Homo sapiens: one gene and its partner. The protein of the gene in region 2 purifies or fractionates together with the protein of the main gene of each other region. This does not show direct contact. Each region holds a gene or a part of one and is shown on either strand. Other genes may lie near its edges.

Region 1 (3,500 bases), on a different chromosome or scaffold from region 2:
ATAAAGCGGAAGGCATCCTGCCTGTTTAACTGGCAGCCCGTCTTCTGGCCTCACCTCCCTTCAGGTACTGCTTTTTTATCTCCTCCTAAAATGCGGCAGCCCTTATCGTCCCAATCTCAAATTTCACTCCATTTTTTTTATTACACAAAAGAGAAAAAAATCTGTCAGTAAAACTGTCTCCTCAAATTTATTCGCCGAGACTGAGGGTTTTATTACGAGGAAAATACACCCACACCCCACACATCCACACACATACCCACACACCCCAGATAAAGCACTGAAGAATTATCCGAGTCGTAAATCTCTGTTTCAGGCTGAGGGACAGGGGAGTTTCAAGGACGAGACTAGTTTTCCTTTGGTTTTATTTACATCTGTTTCTCTGGGGCTGTGTCAGGGCCTCACTGTCAGCCAGAGGAGTAAATAACTGCTTCTGTGAAACCTGCTTCAGGCAGCTGGAGACAAGTGCTTATCTCAGCTGCAGGGTGAGGGATCTGGAGGGCAGGCCCCACTGTCCCAGCTGTCTGTGGTACACACTCCTTCCTCCCTCAGCCTCTCGGAAGGCAAAGGAAATGGGAGGCTCAGACACGCTCAGGTGGGGCCAGCGGGCTAGCAGCTATTTGCAAGGATGTTATTCTGTGGTTCCTGGTGGTTAGAGGGCCCAAGAAAGAGGCCAGGTGGGAGTTGGGGATTATTAGTACAGGCTGTGGACAGAAGGTGTGGTGGGTGTGCTGGAAGACACCTCGCCTTTAATTCTAGAAACATTTCTCCACGCCTGAGACATACAGGGGCAGTTGCAGCCTCACGGCCGAGAAGGAAATACATTTCAGACATGGTTGCAGCCCATTACGACCTTATTCACAAGAGGTACACAGTCCACAATTAGCTGAGGTTCCAGAGTCAGTAAGATGATGGCTGCAGCAGCAACAGGTAATTACCAAGTGTTATCCAATGATGTTCTGACACTTCTGAAGGAGCCAAGAATCCCCTTGGAGGGAAGGGTGATCATGGAAGGCTTCCTGGAGGAAGTAGGCCCTTTTCAGGGAGTGCTTGGTCCTAGGCTGGCTCTTTCTGTCTATGGGAGGCTTTGGAGCATGAAGCAAGGCTGATTTCCTCCATCCCCAGTTGAATGTTTGATTTCGGTTCCTAATTTTGTGCTCTGAAGAAGTCATTCCACCTCCCCTAGTCTCAGTTTCCTCATCTGTGAAATGGGGATAAGGCAACGTTCCTCCCTATGAGGATTACATGAGCCTTGTAGAGTCCCTGGTGGGTGGGAAGTGCTCACTCATGGGGTATTTTCACGAGCACTCACACCTTTCTGGACCATCTGTTTTTCTGTGTCCCTCCCCACCCTCCAGGGCTCTTTCTGTCTATGGGGCTGGAGAGCAAAGCATCTCTTGCTAAAATGCCAGAGGATGTGGAATTCAGTAAATGAAAGAAGGGAGCCCACACCCAGAGAGGGAGGCAGGTGGAAGGTGCCAGAAGGCTGGGTTGTGTCTATAAGGAGTGGGGTGCAGAGAGCAGGGACCGAGAATTTGCTAGTAGTCATCGTAGCAGCTTCAAAACAAAGTGCAGGGATGCCCTGAGTGAGTACCTGGAGGCAGGCAGGTCTCATGGGCTCTGAGAGGCTCCCATGGTGCCAGTGGGTAGGGACCACGAGGCCAGGGCCGACCGACAACCACAGAGGTGACAAGGCAGACAAGGTAAGCCAAGCCCTGTGGATGTGTGGGTTTGCCTGGCCCCAGAGCGAGAGGCACTTCTGAAATGAATGATTTCATTCACTCCATATTCAACAGACTTTTGATGAACAAACACACAGGTCCTTGAATATGAGCTACTCCTAGAACATAAGCTCTATGAGGATGGGTGGATTTTTTTTTTGTTTTGTTTGTTTGTTTGTTTGTTTGAGACAGAGTCTCGCTCTGTCACCAACCTGGAGTGTAGTGGCACGATCTCAGCTCACTGCAAGCTCCGCCTCCCAGGTTCACACCATTCTCCTGCCTCAGCCTCCCAAGTAGTTGAGACTACAGGCACCTGCCACCACGCCTAGCTAATTTTTTGTATTTTTATTTTTATTTTTATTTATTTTTATTTATTTATTTATTTTATTTTTTTTTTTTGAGACGGAGTCTCGCTCTGTCGCCCAGGCTGGAGTGCAGTGGCGCGATCTCGGCTCACTGCAAGCTCCGCCTCCCGGGTTCACGCCATTCTCCTGCCTCAGCCTCCCAAGTAGCTGGGACTACAGGTGCCCGCCACTACGCCCGGCTAATTTTTTGTATTTTTAGTAGAGACGGGGTTTCACCGTTTTAGCCGGGATGGTCTCGATCTCCTGACCTCGTGATCCGCCCGCCTCGGCCTCCCAAAGTGCTGGGATTACAGGCGTGAGCCACTGTGCCTGGCCGAAGATGGGGTCTTTATCTGTCCTGTCCATTGCTCTGTTTCCAGAATTTAGCAAATGGCACTCGCTCGATAAATATCTGCTGGATGAGTCAATGAGTGAATGAATGAGTTGAGACCTTACCATGTGCCAGGCACTGGGAATACCATGAAGAAAAGGGAAAAGGCCCTTGCTGCTCTGCGATACAGACTGGCCCCAGGACAGCCTGCTGTGCCTGGACCCTGATCTGTCTGGGACTCCCTGGTAAGAGTAGCCTGGCCCAGGCGGGACAGTGGCCTCAGACCACCTCCGATGTGAGGCTCCAAAAGGAACCAGCAGGCTTTCTCTTTCTTAAAGCTCCCAGCATTAATGATATTCTGTGCAGGAAAACATCCTAACTCTGCAAAGCGTACACCTGGACCAGACAGAAGAGGCTGTGCACGTAGTTATGCAAAAGAATCTGCATCCTAACCAGTGCCTACACAGGCTGAGTGTCCCCCAGCCCTCCCTTCCATTGTTCCTTGGAATCTCAGGACTGTAAGCTCCAAGAGCCCTGTATCCCAGAGCCTAGCACAGTGCCTGGCATACGAAGGGATGTTGAATAAGTGAACTATACCAAGAGACGTGTGTCATGATCCCCATTTGCAGACAGGAACCACGGCCAAGAAAGAGGCAAGTGAACTGCCCAAGGTCACACATGTATTATACTTGTAATAGTAAACAGCAGAGCTGACCGCTCAGCATGGATGAGTCCAAAAGAAGGGAGCAGAAGACCTACTTTGAGGTTGGGGATATGGGAAATGTGCAGAGGCTTTTGGGGTCACACAGCTCTGGAATCAGATCCCAGCTCTGCCACTCAGTTGATTGCTGGGTGAGGTTGGAGGGTTCTGTGTGCCTGTTTCCTCATCTGCAAAACGGGAAGGATCATGCCTCCCTGTAAGGCACACGTGTGAGAATTCAGTGCGTAAGAGTGAACACACAGAGAGCCCAGGGGATTGCTTGGCATGCGGTAATAATAGCATGACGGGAATAACAATAGCTGGCATACATTGGCGCCTACCCTGTGCCAGATATTGCTTGCAAACATCACCTCCTGTCATCGTAACAGAAAGTGCTCCATCATATT
Region 2 (5,215 bases):
GATGTAAGGATGAGTTAGCCATTATGATACAATGTGATGGCTTCAATATTCAATTGTGACTATAGACAAGGGCAGACCTACACCCCAAGAATACTGGTATGGAGTATGGAGGTATGCACAGAGGGTGAAGACTGAGCTAAGTCTTGAAAGATGACAAGGCTTTTGACAATACACAAATATAGGGCTGCCAAGTTTGATGAGTGTAACAAACAAATAGAGCCCTGAGATACAGAGTAACACTCGGGGCCCACTTCCAGAGGGTAGCAGGGAAAGACAGTCAGCAATCTTCAGCGGAGGCCTGAAGTCTGAGAAGGCCAGTCCCATGAAGAGTATTCCAGGCAAAAAAAAAAGACATATGTGAGGCCTGAAGGTGGTTCCCTGCTAAGCCAAGTGGCCAAAGTTTGGTGAGTAGAATGAAGAATGGCTCAAGAGAATGGAAAGAGAGGCAGGGACAGATCGCAAAGGGCCTCAGGGCCAGGGAAAGGAACTTGGACTTCATTCCCAGGGCAATGAGGAGCCATTAGAGACTCATAAAAAGGGAGTACCATGGCATTATTTCTTCTTAAAATACTGAACACCTGCATGAAGAAAAGTTAAGAAGGGTGGAGAGATACAAGAGAAGCAGGGAAACCACTTAAAAAGCCTCATGCTAGGTGAGGGTACTGATACACAAGAGGAGAGAAGTGAAGAGAAGAGACATATTCTGAGGTGGAACCAAATGGGTCACTGGACGTGGGAGGGAAAGGGAAGGAGGACTCCCCAGTTTTCTATTTGAGCAATTGCCTAGATGGTGGTAACTTCTGCCAAGATAAAGAATACTAAAGGAATAAAAGGTTTTTGAAGAAAAAAACAACAACAACAAGAGTTCTGCAAAGGACACAGTTAAGTTTAAGAGGACTATGAAACATCCAAGTAGAAAAGTCAGGTTGGCCAGGAGCCTGGAGCTCAGAGAACCAGGCTGGGCTAAAGATATAAATCTGGCATTCATTAGCATCTAGATGATATTTAAAGCCACAGAAGTTGATGAGCTCACCCACGGAGAGGGTAGAGAGAAAAGAGGAAGGGATCTATGCTTATCAGAAGAACTTTCAGATGTATTACACTATGGGCAATGGGTATGTCTGAAAATTCTTAAACATGATTTGTATTTTGGAAATAATGTTGTAAGGGAAGTAGAATGAGAGCCTGAACTAAGGAGGGGGATTATTTGAGTGAAATTTAGGGAAAGATCCCTTTCTTGAGTTACTTGATACAAGGAATGAAAGCAACACAGGAGTCTAAATGGATTGCCAGATTTCTGGCCTGAGAAGTTAGGTAACTATAGCACCACTATGAGACAGAAGCACAAGATAAACTTAAGGATGGGATGGTAACGATGAGTTTAAGGTGAAAGTTAAAGCAGTGGGTTTGAGTGAGAACACCCAGAAAAGGCACACAGAGTGAGACGATAATAGCCAAAACCCTGGAGAATGTTAATTAAAATGCGGGCAAAGAAAGAAAAGATCATAAAATAAGAAAGAGGGAGAAGCCAGAAAATAGAACGAGGAAAAAGTAGGATTACTTAAATTAAGGCAGAAACAAGTATGGATAATCAAGAATGGTCACTTGGGTCAAATTCCAAAAAGAAACTGAGCAAGAGAAAGACAAGAAATCTTAGTATCTGGCAATCAGGAATTATTGGTGACCTGGGACAAGCGCGGTAGCTGCTGCCTGTAATCCCAGCACTTTGGGACGCCAAGGTAGGATTGCTCGAGCCCAGGAGTTGGAGACCAGCCTGGGCATTGCAAGACCCCTTCTCTATAAAAAAAATTTTTTTTTAAATTAGCCAGGGTGGTGGGATACACCAGTAATCCCTGGGCTTTGGGAAGCTGAGTGGGGGAAAACTGCTTAAGCCCAGGAGGTCAAGGCTGCAGTTGGCATGATGATACCGCTGCACTCTAGCCTGGGTGACAGAGTGAGACCATCTCTAAAAAAGTAATTATTGGTGGCCTTATAGCATGGTGGAAGAAGCCAAGCTAAAGACTGAACGGGAGGGAAGAAAGTACATACATGACTTGAGACTTGGCTACAAAAGGAGAGTGACTGAGGGCAACACAAGATCAAAAGAGAATTTCTTCCAAATGTGGGATCTGCATTAGTAGGATTCTTATGTGGAAATTTAAAAAAAAAAAAGGTAGAAGAATAAATTGAGGGCAGGAGGGATAGAATCTAGAGGTTAGCCTGGGATATCACAGATACTTTGCAGGACAGGAGGGAAAGAATAATATAAAAGTTTGTACATGTGAGGGAGACAGGAGGTTCCCAGCATCCACTCAAGAAAACCCCGCTTTTCTATAAAGACACAGGAATGACCATCTGTTGAGGGACAAGATGACCATCTCCGTAGAAACTGCATTAATAAGTTCAAGGGATGACACGGGTGGCCAGAGGGCTGATGCTAAAACACACATCATTTGCACCAAAACTTTTAAAGCAAAACTGGAAAAGGTGAATCTAGTCTCTGAAGCACTTCACAAATGAACTCTCTTTGAGAGCCTATTAATAAAGCACTTAAGTCCTTTAAAACATAAAAACAATTTTTTCAAAATTGAATTAGTAAGTCTCAAAGTCTGTAAGGATCTGTGGTAGCTAAATCAGCTTAGAAGTGTGATCCATCACCTTATCCCGGGTATAAGGATTTTTCTCTTCCTCTTCTTGGGTATTTTGTTGAACCTATTTACATTTTAAGGGACACAGTAGAGTCTAGTCACACTTATAAATGAACTGTTCTGTAAGTCAAAGGATTTATATCAGGAAGAGAACCAGATTTAGGGCAAAAGATCCACTAATTGCTAACCAATATCTTGGACAAATCACCTAATCCCTCTCACCTCCATTTCCTCACATACCATCATTTCCTTGATCCTATGATGCACTCCCTCACATATCAGAATCAGGATGTAGCCTGATACTAAAGTGCAAACTTCATATACAAGCGTTCCTCCACCACCTGCACTGTTTAGAAGTCAACAGTAGGCTGGGCGCGGTGGCTCACGCCTGTAATCCCAGCACTTTGGGAGGCCGAGGAGGGCAGATCACGAGGTCAGGAGATCGAGACCATCCTGGCTAACACGGTGAAACCCCGTCTCTACTAAAAAAAAAAAAATACAAAAAAAATTAGCCAGGCTTGGTGGCGGGCACCTATAGTCCCAGCTATTCAGGAAGCTGAGGCAGGAGAATGGCGTGAATCCGGGAGGCGGAGCCTGCAGTAAGCCAAGATTGCGCCACTGCACTCCAGCCTGGGCGACAGAGCGAGACTCCGTCTCAAAAAAAAAAAAAGAAATCAACAGTACATCCTACAATCAACAAGGCCTCTGAGCCTAGAAAAATAATGCCAGTATTCATCTGACACAACTGATGGTATCACTGGATGGACCAAATGAGGCTGAGATGCATTTTAATGTTAGTAACTAACGCCTGTCTGATACCTTAAGGCACAGGCTGCAAAACTATATACATATAATTTGTTTAAATGTCTGGTGATCTTTTTTTTTCCAGACAGGGTCTCAGTCTGTCACATACTCTGGAATACAGTGGCACAATCATAGCTCACTGCAACCTTGAACTTCTGGGATGATCAAGTGATCCTCCCACCTCAGCCTCCCAAGTAGCTGGGGCTACTAGCATGCACCATCACACCCAGCTAATTGTTAAATTTTTTTGGTAGAAACAGGGTCTCACTATGTGGCCCAGGCTGGTCTCAGACTCCTGGGCTCAAGCGATCATCCCACTTCAGCCTCCCAAAGTGTTGAGATTACATGTCTGAGCCACTGCCCCCAGCCTAAATGCCTTTTTTTCTTTTAACAAAAAAGGAAAAACCTATACTAAAGTTAAATGGTAGAAAAAGTGATATTTTACTTTCTCATTTGTGCTTTTCTGAATTTTTGAATTTTTCTCACAGTGAACATCAAGGGGGTAATTATGTATTAATAAAAGTAGAAATAAGAACTCTTTAAAAAGTTCTACCAGCCAGGTGTGGTGGCTCATGCTATAATCCCAGCACTTTGGAAGGCCGAGGCAGGTGGACTGCCTGAGGTCAGGAGTTCAAGACCAGCCTGGCCAACATGGCAAAACCCCGTCTCTACCAAAAATACAAAAAGTAGCCAGGTGTGGTGGTGGATGCCTGTAATCCCAACTACTCGGGAGGCTGAGGCAGGAGAATCACTTGAACCCAGGAGGCAGAGGCTGCAGTGAGCCGAGATTGTGCCACTGCACTCCAGCCTGCGCAATGGAGCAAGTCTTCGTCTCAAAAAAAAAAAGTTCTACCTATAAATCTAGGTCTATTAAAAGCTCTCAGATGGCAGTAATATGCATACATTAAAATATATAAAGATATTACATAAACCCTATTTTAGTATGTTTAGTAACTAAAATCTAGCCACATATTCTATACTCAAAGTGCTACTACGAGAAAATTGCTTTAGTACTTACCTTATTTTCCATAACACGACGTACTAAAAATTTGTAAACACCAAAATATGGGCCACATTACAGTCAACACACAACTGAGTTTATTTACTATGAACATAAAAACTTATAATTCTTGAAAATGAACATTAACATCAATCCCCTAAGACTGTTAACATGCACCAATACCTAAATCCCTATTCCACTAAAAAAGATTAAGAGAATACACTATTTCAAGTGATATAGAAATAATCAAAACATAATTTAAAATTCCTTCTAAAAGCTTGATCCTTACTCTTTATATTTGTGTCTCTACTGTTTCTTTTATTCATTTTCATGTTTCATTAAACATCAATAAAAAGAATAGAGACCACATGTATACAGTTGTACTTCACTACAGATAAGAACAACAGATCAGAGCAAGTGGGCAGTTAAGTCACTCTTCTGTTTCCCTGTGTATTAACATGAAGAAGGAAATAAAATAATACTCCACTCCTGCCTCACAAAGCTACTAAGCAGAGGAGATGATATATATAAGAATGTGCTTGCCCTTTTCAAGAAAAAGAGGTATAAGAAACTCAGGGGATAAGTATCATTTCTGAAAGCTTTTGTTATTCTGGCTGATAAGAAATTTTCAAATATGGTTAAGTAAGCATAAATCCTACACGTTTTCAAGGTGACCCCTATAGGGACCTCTCTATATACAGTCCTGGTATAAATGCATGAAAATACAGTTCATTTGAATTTATATTGACTTGGGGCTTAAAAA

The links.
Region 1: the proteins of MIER3 (region 2) and IGSF21 purify together in Homo sapiens (affinity purification with mass spectrometry; one large-scale study listed by BioGRID and IntAct). This does not show direct contact.

What each region holds. Positions count from the first base shown.
Region 1 is NC_000001.11:18,285,798-18,289,297, reverse strand, and holds part of IGSF21 (immunoglobulin superfamily member 21 precursor), read right to left. Parts: intron 191-3,500; exon of another isoform or gene 1-190. UniProt on the Homo sapiens protein: Involved in synaptic inhibition in the brain. Selectively regulates inhibitory presynaptic differentiation through interacting with presynaptic NRXN2.
Region 2 is NC_000005.10:56,941,176-56,946,390, forward strand, and holds part of MIER3 (mesoderm induction early response protein 3), read right to left. Parts: intron 1-5,215.